Regions from separate parts of the Homo sapiens genome. Here region 2 is linked to region 1. Evidence: fine-mapped expression QTL. A gene starts in region 1. The other region holds a variant in brackets. All regions are shown on one strand. Distances are from middle to middle.

Evidence for each region.
Region 2: its variant is fine-mapped to the expression of MIDN in whole blood (TOPMed, PIP above 0.99).

Annotation. Positions count from the first base shown.
Region 1 is chr19:1,246,332-1,251,684 of GRCh38, forward strand. MIDN (midnolin) reads left to right here and starts at 2,252. Exons shown (of 9, transcript NM_001388306.1): 1 at 2,252-2,329; 2 at 3,559-4,198; 3 at 5,231-5,318. The coding sequence starts at 3,966. LOC102723811 (a long non-coding RNA gene) reads right to left here and starts at 1,741. Exons shown (of 2, transcript XR_007067082.1): 1 at 1,682-1,741; 2 at 1-1,530. RefSeq lists enhancers at 1-393, 2,329-2,862, 4,707-5,353 and silencers at 1,706-2,245, 2,336-2,795, 2,856-2,975, 3,006-3,475, 3,656-3,705 and 5 more.
Region 2 is chr19:1,226,306-1,231,637 of GRCh38, forward strand. STK11 (serine/threonine kinase 11) reads left to right here. Exons shown (of 10, transcript NM_000455.5): 9 at 149-358; 10 at 1,288-2,126. The coding sequence ends at 342. CBARP (CACN subunit beta associated regulatory protein) reads right to left here. Exons shown (of 10, transcript NM_001393918.1): 9 at 4,796-4,970; 10 at 1,982-3,837. The coding sequence ends at 2,874. Among named protein-coding and RNA genes, the nearest start is that of CBARP-DT, 9.0 kb to the right of the region's middle. The variant AAAGCTTGGG/A (reference allele first, on the strand shown) is at 2,108.

The DNA.
Region 1 (5,353 bases):
GGCCACACAGTGGCCCCTGTGAAGCCCAGCAAGTTCCGACAACCCGTGTCCCATTCCACTCCCGACCAGACTGAGGTGATGGTGTCCATTCCACTCCCGACCAGACTGAGGTGACGGTGTCCATTCCACTCCCGACCAGACTGAGGTGACGGTGTCCATTCCACTCCCGACCAGACTGAGGTGACGGTGTGCAGGTGGCAGAGCCACACACGAGAGGCAAGAGGCAGGGAGGGAGGTGGGGGCTGCTGGCCACTCACAGGGGGCCCCAGTGTCCTGCTTGGGCTGCTCATTTGGCACCAGTCCACGGCTCCCTCCGCCACCTTTGTTCTCACTGGAAGCAGAATGAGCCTGGCCCTGTAGTTCCCACCTGGGGCCCCAGCCCTTCATCCAAGCCCCATTCATCGACCCTGCCCCTCCTCCCTCCAACTGGGTCCAGTTCACTAAGCTCCCAGAACTGCTCAAGCCATTCCCACTTCCTGGACCATCGTCTTTTTTTTTTTTTTTTTTTTTTTTTTTTGAGAGGAGTTTCGCTCTTATTGCCCAGGCTGGAGTGCAATGGCACAATCTCAGCTCACCACAATCTCCGTCTCCCGGGTTCGAGCAATGCTCCCGCCTCAGCCTCCCAAGTAGCTGAGATTACAGGCGCACATCACCACGCCTGGCTAATTTTTGTGTTTTTAGTACAGACAGGGTTTCACCATGTTGATCAGGCTGGTCTCGAACTCCTGACCTCGTGATCCGCCCGCCTCGGCCTCCCAAAGTGCCAGGATTACAGGCATGAGCCACCGCGCCCGGCCTTTTTTTTTTTTTTTTTTTTTTTTGAGACGGAATCTCGTTTTGTCGCTCAGGCTGGAGTGCCCTGGCACGATCTGGGTTTATTGTAACCTCCGCCTCCCGCGTTCAAGCGATTCTCCTGCCTCAGCCTCCTGAGTAGCTGGGACTACAGACACATGCCACCATGCCCAGCTAATTTTTGTATTTTTAGTAGAGACAGGGTTTCACCATGTTGGCCAGGCTGGTCTCAATCTCTTGACCTTGTGATCCGCCCGCCTCGGCCTCCCAAAGTGCTGGGATTACAGGCGTGAGCCACCGCGCCCGACCGCATCATCTTTTTTATGTGACAAACTCCTAGTCATTCCTCAAACCGCAGCCCCTGTGACCCCCTTCCAAGGGTTATCCCAGCCTCTCCCTCTCTGGCCTAGCCCTGACCCTTCGGGGCTGGGTGTGCCTGTCAAGGTGGGGGCCACGGCTGCCGGGAGCATGGGTGGCAGCCGGAAGGAGACCTGGGGAGGAGCGCAGCCCTGGGAGGGGCGCCCATGGCCAGGGTGGGGGTGGAGGTGGTCAGGCCAGATAAAGGGAGGGGCCAGATGAGTGGACAGGAGGTGCTCCCGTAGGAATGGGGTCCCCTTCTCTAAATAGAGGGGCAGGACGGGGCCCACCTCAACCAGGACCATCCTCAAAAAGCCGACGGGGAAGGGTGAGATGCACACCACATTCGTGTCTCATTGGCTGTGGCCTCAGTTTCTTCATCTGTAAAATGGGGTAATGCCCACCCCAAAGGCTGGGAACCAGTGCATGTCCTGCATTAATGGGGGGTGATGGCCCCAAAGTGATCCTGCCGCATCCCCTCACCACACTCCCACCCACCCTGGAGAAACTGAGGCTTGGAGAGGCCAGTTACCTCCCGGGGTCACAGCATAGCCGGCTGGTGACTGGCTGGGCACAAGGCAGGCCTGGCACTGGCTAATCGCTCCATAAATGCCCTCTGAGGTCACCATTGACAGATGCAGGAGGCCAGGGCTGGCCAGGGCACCCCCACTCTACGGCAGGTGACTCCAGCCTGTTTTCCTGGACGACAGCCGCTGACTCAGGCCCCTCTTCCCGTCCCCCCCACGCGGGCGCCCCCAGGCGGAAGCACCGGGCCTGGGGCGACAGGAAGGGGGCGGGGCAGCGAGTCGCGCTGTACACCCCAAAACCCTGTCCCGCTGACGATTCGGGGTGCATCTCAGCCCGCGGCGAGGCGGGCCGAGACCCTTGGCTCGGGGCATTCAAGGGGAGTCCCCCCATGAACTGCGCCAAGCCTGGGTCCCGGGTGGCCCAGCCGTCAAGGCGCCCCAGGGCCAGGGCCGGCAGGCAGGGGCGGGGGCCAGTCTGCGTCACCGCCCGCCCGGCCCCCCGCCCCCCTGCCCGCCCTAACTCCACCCCGAGGGAAGGCGGCGCGGATAAAGGCTGAGGGCCGCGCGCTTGGCCCAGACCGGCCCGGCCAGCGCGCATTCGGCCCCGGACGAAGGTACTCGCAGCACTTGGAGCGCAGAACCGGCCGCGCCCGGTGAGTGTGGAGGGGGGGGACCTGCGGGCCGAGGAAGGGTGCCCACTCTAGATGGCTCAGGATGCCCGCACTTTTCTTTGTTCTTGGGACAGGAGGGATCGGGGAGCCTCCGGTCCTGGGAAGCCCCCCGGGGTGCGGGGTGGGAGGGGCTCCGCGCAGCCAGCGCCGCCCTGGCCGGACCTCAGCCCCCGCCCCGCCCCCCGGGGCACTCCCCCTTCACCGCGGGTGACCTTGAACTGGTTGCCGTTCCGCCCTCCGTTGCCCAGCCACACGGTCCCAGTCTCCCGACTACAGTCTTTCGTTCCCGATCGGGGTTCCTCCCCCGCGCGCAGCCCAGTCGTCTTCCTCCCCTGCCAGGGGCAGCGCGGCGCCCCCTCCCCGGGACTCCGGGCGGCGCTCCCAGGCGGGCCCGGCAGAGGGCGCGCCCGAGCTGCTGACTCACCGCATCCCCGAGCGCGCGCGGGCGCAGCCGGGGACGCCGCGTCACGTCACGGCTCGAGCGGGCGCGCCTCGGGGAAACGGGTTCTGCCCGCGGCCGGCGGGTGGGCGCGCGGGGCCCCCGGCGGCAGCCACCCGGCCACGTCACCGAGGTGCGGGCGCCCCGCCCCGGCCACAACTCCGCCCCCACGCACCACGCCCTCCCCGGGGCCGCGGCCCTAGCCTCACCGTCGCCCGCCCGCCCCGGGACCCCGGCCACGAGGCGCGGACTTCGCGCTCCCGCTTCCGCTCGCGGCTTTTCCCGGACGAAGGCGGCGGGGTGGCCCCACGACTTCCTGCCCCTCCCGGCGCCGGGAACAATGGCCCGCGCCCCCTCCCGCTCCCGGCCGCTCCCTTGGGATCGCGAGGGGTACCAGACCCGTCTCCAGACCTGGGTCCCGCGCCCCCCGGGGCGCGCCCGCCCTTTGTTGCGGGCTCCGGGCGCTTATGAATGGCTGCGGGCGCGGGCGGGGCGGGGGCGGGCGCGGAGAGGCGCCAGCCCCGCCCCCGCTGCGCTCCCCTTGGTCGCCTGGGCGCTGGGGGCGGGGCGAGGGGGCGGGCCCGGCTGCCACGTGGGGCGGTGCCGCGGCGGCTCTCATAGGCCCGGGCTCGCGGCCGACTGGGCGCTCGGCGCGCGGCGATTGGCCGGCGCCCGGCCGGCGGAGTAAGTAGTGAATGGGAGGGGGCGGCGGCCCCGCCCCCTGGAACGTTGATACATTATAACTTTTTTTTCTTGTTACTTTCACCCCCAGATCCTCCGAGCGGCGGCGACGGCTGTTGCTAAGGGAGGGGACGCGCGAGGAAGCGCGACCCGGGCGGCAGACGGCACCCAGCGCCACCAGCCGAGCGGCGCCCCCTCCCCAGGACCCTTAACCGCGCCGCGTCCCGGTCGCGCCCGCCGCCCTTTGAAGGAGAAGCAAGTGCCGTCCCCACCCCCGGAAGGCGCCCCCAGGAGCCGGAGCGACCTCGGAGCGCCACTCGGATTTTGGATTTCGGTCTCGCATTCCGCGGCCGGGACTTTCTCGAGGAGGACGCGCGCTGCTCCGCGCCCCCGAGTGCCCGGAGGACCCGGCATCCGGGGAGCCTCTCGCCCCTGTCCCGGAGGCGCGGCGAGGATTGGCGGCGCCCGCCGCCCCCAGCCCCCCAGCGCGCGCCGGGGATGGAGCCGCAGCCCGGCGGCGCCCGGAGCTGCCGGCGCGGGGCCCCCGGCGGCGCCTGCGAGCTGGGCCCGGCGGCCGAGGCGGCGCCCATGAGCCTCGCCATCCACAGCACCACGGGCACCCGCTACGACCTGGCCGTGCCGCCCGACGAGACGGTGGAGGGGCTGCGCAAGCGGTTGTCCCAGCGCCTCAAAGTGCCCAAGGAGCGCCTGGCTCTTCTCCACAAAGACACGTAGGTACCGCGCGCCCCCGGCCGGCCGCCCCCTCGGGCCCCGGCCCCCGGGCGGGAACAAAGAGCGCGCCGCGCGGGGAAGGCAGGGGGCGGCCAGACAGGGGGCGGGGGCGCGCCGCGCGCTCTCGGGCGCCCTCTGCTCGGCCTCGCCTGCCTCGGCCCCCTCCCCCGCCCGGGGTCGCCGCACAAAGGCGGCTGCGAGGGCGTCCCGGGCCGGGCTTCGGCGGCCCCCCTTGGGGGCGGGCAGGAATCCCAGGGCGTTGCGGGGGTCCCGGCTGCGGGTGTGGGGGCCGCCACCGCCCCCTCCCGCCTGCGTCCGCGCCGGCTTCCGCATCTGCTCGGCGGCCTCCTCTGCGTCTGGCTGTCTCCCCCCACTTGCGTCTCTCTCCCCCCCTTTGTTCTCGCCTCCGAGCGCTCCCCGCAGCCTCCCCTCCCCCCTGGTATTTAAATCGCCTGCAGGCCCGGAGCCCTCCCCCCGCGGGCCTCCGGGGACACGCAGTGTCCATCCCAGTGGAGGGGCCCATCGGGGGAGGGGCGGAGGGGGAGGGTCTCCTTTGTCTGCGCGGCGGCGGCCGCCTGCGCCGGGGAGGGAGGAGGAGGGGGAGCCCGGCCCGGCGCAACCCCCAGGGCCTCTCCTCGGGCCGAAACCCGTGGTTCCTACAAAGAGGAGCCAGGACTAGAATTAGGGAATTGGGGGCAGGGGCTGCCCTGGGGTCGTGGGGGAAGGTGGCATAGAGCACACTGGGGCCCAGAGGAGGAGAAAGTGCCTGGTTGGGGTGCAGAGGGGGTGCCAGAGTCCAGGGCGGGGGTTCCACTGGAGGGAAGGGGTCCGAATCGCCAGGATGGGGCTCCCAGCACCAGACGGAGACCTCTCTGCACGCGCTTAGGGCCCTGGATCTGGAAGCCGGGAAGGGGTGGGGGTGGGAACTTATCCGTCTCTCCCCACACAAGCACAGCCCTCCCCCGCGGCCTCTGCTTCCGCGTCCCTGTGTCGTCTCCGCGGAGTCTCATGCTCTTCCTTCCTCCCCCCAGCCGGCTCAGTTCGGGGAAGCTGCAGGAGTTCGGCGTGGGTGATGGCAGCAAGCTGACCTTGGTACCCACCGTGGAAGCGGGCCTCATGGTAAATGGCCATGGGGCTGCGTGCCCCCAGAGGCC
Region 2 (5,332 bases), 20 kb before region 1:
CAGGCTGGATACACCTGGGCCTGACCCGGGGGCGGGCATGGCCTGGGCAGCAGCTGTAAGTGCGTCCCCGTGGTGGGGGCCAGCCAGGTCCCTGTGGCTCTGGGGTTGCGCCCCTCAGCTCAGGCCACACTTGCCGTCTCCCTCCCAGGACAGGTCCCAGAAGAGGAGGCCAGTCACAATGGACAGCGCCGGGGCCTCCCCAAGGCCGTGTGTATGAACGGCACAGAGGCGGCGCAGCTGAGCACCAAATCCAGGGCGGAGGGCCGGGCCCCCAACCCTGCCCGCAAGGCCTGCTCCGCCAGCAGCAAGATCCGCCGGCTGTCGGCCTGCAAGCAGCAGTGAGGCTGGCCGCCTGCAGGTGGGGCGCGGCGGGGCCCGGGTGGGGCATGTGGGGACAACGCCTGGATGCCACAGCCAGCCGTGAGCATAGCCCGCGCTAGTCAGTCATGGTGACCGTCACGTGGCTGCGCGTGGTTGCCATGTGGCCTTTGGGTGGCTTGGCCACGTAGCGATCCCCGTGGAGGGTGCCGTCTCGGGGCCTGGTGTCTGGCCAGCGTGCTGGTCATGGAGGCCTACGTGTGGCGGGGCTCTGGGGGGGCGTGCCGTCCTCACAGCCACCTCTCAGAGTGGGTGCATTCCGAGGACCCTGCCCTGGGCCTGGCGCCCCCTCCCCATGCCCGCGCCGCTTCCAGGAAAGGCTTATGCTGGGCTCAGCCCAGAGGCTTTTGAGCACCAGTGGGTGGTGGGTGGTGGGGAGGGGCCGCGGCCTCCATGGCTCTGCCGGGGTGCCGCAGGCTCTGAGCCAGCTGCCAAGTATGGCTGAGGCTGAGTCGTGCCGGACGCTGCCCTGTCTCTCCCTGTGTGCCTGCCTCCTCTCCCAGCCCCAGCCCCAGCCCCGGGTGGGAGACGGAGTCCCAGAGGTGTCAGAGACCCTTAAGTCACCTGCCGAGGATGCGGGGTGGATGGGGGCCCGAGGCTGAAGCCCCTGCCTTGCCACAGCCCCTCTCCCAGGTTTTGGGGGCCACCGCCTGAGTTACATGTCTGTCCCCCAAATGGGTGCCCACAGCCCATCCACCAGCGTCAGAGCCCGCCAGGCCCCACTGCAAAAGGCCACACAATGTACCCCGGGAGTGACTCAAGGGTGGCCTTCCCTGGCCTCCCCTGCTGCCCCCCAGGAGTCCGGTAGCCCCATGACTGTACCTCAGCTTCTCCATCCTCCCAGGGGCCCGCGGGAGGCGGAGAACCGGTGCCCAGGCTGACCTCTTCCGTCTTCCTTCCACCCTGCAGCCCGTGTCCAGGAGCCCCGCCAGGTGCCCGCGCCAGGCCCTCAGTCTTCCTGCCGGTTCCGCCCGCCCTCCCGGAGAGGTGGCCGCCATGCTTCTGTGCCGACCACGCCCCAGGACCTCCGGAGCGCCCTGCAGGGCCGGGCAGGGGGACAGCAGGGACCGGGCGCAGCCCTCCCCCCTCGGCCGCCCGGCAGTGCACGCGGCTTGTTGACTTCGCAGCCCCGGGCGGAGCCTTCCCGGGCGGGCGTGGGAGGAGGGAGGCGGCCTCCATGCACTTTATGTGGAGACTACTGGCCCCGCCCGTGGCCTCGTGCTCCGCAGGGCGCCCAGCGCCGTCCGGCGGCCCCGCCGCAGACCAGCTGGCGGGTGTGGAGACCAGGCTCCTGACCCCGCCATGCATGCAGCGCCACCTGGAAGCCGCGCGGCCGCTTTGGTTTTTTGTTTGGTTGGTTCCATTTTCTTTTTTTCTTTTTTTTTTTAAGAAAAAATAAAAGGTGGATTTGAGCTGTGGCTGTGAGGGGTGTTTGGGAGCTGCTGGGTGGCAGGGGGGCTGTGGGGTCGGGCTCACGTCGCGGCCGCCTTTGCGCTCTCGGGTCACCCTGCTTTGGCGGCCCGGCCGGAGGGCAGGACCCTCACCTCTCCCCCAAGGCCACTGCGCTCTTGGGACCCCAGAGAAAACCCGGAGCAAGCAGGAGTGTGCGGTCAATATTTATATCATCCAGAAAAGAAAAACACGAGAAACGCCATCGCGGGATGGTGCAGACGCGGCGGGGACTCGGAGGGTGCCGTGCGGGCGAGGCCGCCCAAATTTGGCAATAAAT[AAAGCTTGGG/A]AAGCTTGGACCTGGCCGTCTGGGTTTTGTTCGCGTCTCAACGTGGATGGGGCGGCAGCGGGGCGGGCGCCGTTGACATGCGGAGGGCAGTGGGGACTCGGGGCGCGGGAGGGCCGGGGCCGGCTCCCTCAGGGCCGGCGGCAGCAGCGGTGGCGGCGCGGTTATTGCTCGGAGGCGGCGCGGGCTGCCGCCAGCACACGCCGCAGTGAGGTAAACGGTCTCGGAGGTCGGCAGTCACGGTGTTGAGCCGCCTCCCGGCCCAGGGCGGCGAACTCGTCTGCGACCGTTAGCGCCCCGCGGCCCCCGCCCGGGCGAGCTCGCGCACGCGCCCGGCACGCGGCGGCTCCATCGGGCCCAGTGGGCTGCGCGACCCTCGGGTGGCGGGCCCTGCGACTAAGCGGCCGCCCCGTCCGGGACTGAGGGCGAGTGATCGTTGTCCTCAGGAGCCCGAAGCTGAGAGCCGTTCACGCCCCTTCCTTCCCGCCCAGCCGGGGTCTCCGCGGCCCGCGCCTCACGACGCCCAGCACCCGGCAAGCACCGGAAAGAGCAGTGCACACTTCGGCGGCGCGAGGGCGGCCGGGGCTCTGCGCCTGCGCCCTGAAGCGGCGAGCGCGCCTCCGTCGCCCGGCGCGTGCGCGAAGGGCCCGCGGTCCCCGCGCATTCGCGTCGGGGCGTCGCGCCCCCACGTCTCTCCCGCCGCCGAGGCCCCGTGCGGCGCCGGAGAAGCTGCCAGAGAGATGGGCCCAGGACGCGGGACTTAGGCCGGGCTGTGGTCGGGGGACGTGGGGGCGGCGGCGACCAACGCGGGAGTCGCCACGACGGGCTCGGCGAGGCGCGGCGGAAAGAGTCTCTCGTCGAGGCCAGCCGCCAGCTTGTCCAGCACCGACCCGGATGGTAGGACGCACAGGCCCGAGCCGGGGCACCCCCCGCCGCCCGGCTCCTCCTCGATGACGGGGATGGCGGGGTCGTCGCCGGCGCCGCCCAGGGTGCGACCGTCGGGCGGGCCGTCCACGCTGTCGCCGCGCCGCAAGGGCGCACGCGCGGGTCGGGCCGCGCCGGCAGGCGGTGCCGGGGTTCCGGCCAGGGCCGGGGCCGCGCGGGCGCCGGGGTCGCTGTGCTGCCGGCCACGCTGCCACTGTTTGCGGGCGTGCGGGTGCGCGCGGGCGCGGTGTCGCGCGGCAGCCGGCGTGTCGTCGAAGTGCGGGTCGTGGCGCAGGAACTCGTGGAACAGCGCGTCCGTCTTCTCGTCGATGCTGTAGTCGCGGCGCGGGCGGCGGGGCCAGGCGCGCGGGCTGCGGGGCCGGGCGGGCGCGGCAGGTGGCTCGGTGTCGTCGCCTGCGCCGCGGCCCTCGATGCTGGCGTAGCCACTGTCCATCTGCAGCAGCCGGCGCGCCTCGCCGTCCTTGGGCCGCGGCGCGGGCGGGGAGGGCGGCGGGAAGGCGGGCGCCGCGCCCCCGGAGCCTGAGCCCGAGCTGTCGCCGCTGCGCACCGAGTCGCGGTCGTTGCCGCTGCTGCTGTGGTCCGAGGCGGCCGCATGCAGCTCAAGCGAGGCGCGCAGGCTCCACAGGTCGCGGTAGCTGGTCTGGGCCTGCTCGGGGCCCGCGTCCCGCTCGGCGTCCGGCTCCAGTGGCGGCTGCTGCTGCTCAGGCCCCGCGCTGCCCGCGCCGCGCTCCGGGGGGGAATCGGGGCTCGCTCCTCCCGCTGCCTCGGCCGCCTCTAGCCTGCAAGCCAGGCCGCGCCGTCAGAGCCCCGCCGAGCCCCGCGCCCCCTACCCGGCCGGCCATCCCGCCTCTGGATCAGGGAGGGTGGACGCGGGTGGGACTTGGGACTCGGGCGGGCCTTGGAAGGTGAGAGCTTTAAAATGAGCCAGTGTGTTTTGCAGGGGATGCGTCTTGCATTGACCCTGAGCTGTGGCGCCTGCTTATTAAGCAGGGTGCCTCCATGCTGGACTGCAGACGGCGGGGCCCCCTCCCTTGGAAGCCCCCAGGAAAAGTCAACATGCTTCTCTCCGGGAGTCACGTTTTCCCAGCCTCCCAGTGGACGTGGGAGCCGCAGGGGATGGACTGGACGCGGTTGAGTCCAGCTCAGCCCCTGCTCCAGGCTAGGGCTCTCTGCCCACCCATGCTGGATAACCAGCAGGAGGACAGTGCACAGACGTGAGGGTCACCCGCCATACCAGGGCTGCCCCAGGAACCCTGCTCTGCCCCAGCCCCACGCCCCATTCCCATCCCACCGACGTGGGCCCTGGGCTTCAGGGAAGTTGCCCTTGGGTTGGGGGAGGGGTGCTGCTGGCCGGAGTGGTCACAGCAGCTTCTGAGAGGAGTCTGCCCAGCCTTGGGAGCATGGGCGGGGCGGGGGTGGGAGAGGGCCTGGGACCACAGCAGAACCCTTCAGGCCTCGGACTCCACCAGCAAGCAGCAGTACCAGCGCCATCCTCGGGGGGCCCCTCCTCCCCACCCACCGCCCTACCCTTACCCAGTCTCTCCCTGCTTCCCTCCTCTGGTCCATGCTGGAGAGGTGGCCCCAGTGAGTCCGCCTCTGGGAGGGGCCTTGCCGCTGGAGGCAGGCGAGCGCGTGTCCACGGGGCCTGGAGAGCGCTCCCTGGGCCGCCTAGGGGGGGGCGAAGGGGGGCAAGGGCCCACAGGTCCACCCCTAGCACCTCCATCTACTGAAAAATACCTGCCGAGAGCAGGGGGCGGGCTGGCCAGAAAGGGGCGGGGGTGCGGGAAGGCCACGGCGTCGCCCGCCCGGGCAATGTACTGGATGAAGTCCTCCTGGGGGGCATCCCCCTCCTCCTGCTCCGTGCTCTCACTGGCTGCCCGCTGCCGCTGGAAGTGGTGCCGCTTGGGGGAACCTGCGCACGGGATGTGCCGTAAGCGTCAGCCGGCATGTGCCTCCACCCGCTCCACACACACACAGAATGCCTATGCCCCCCCGCCACACACACACAATGCCTGTGCCCCCCCGCCACACACAACGCCTGTGGACCCCCACCACACACACACAACGTGTGCCCCCCACACATACAACGCCTGGGCCCCCCCCACACACAGAACGCCTGTGGCCCCCATACACACACATAGAACGCCTGTGCCCCCCACCACAGAACGCCTGTGGCCCCCTCACACACACACGCCTGTGCCCCCCCCACAGAACGCCTGTGCACCCCCCATGCCTGTGCCCCCCCCACAGAATGCCTGTACCCTCCTACACACA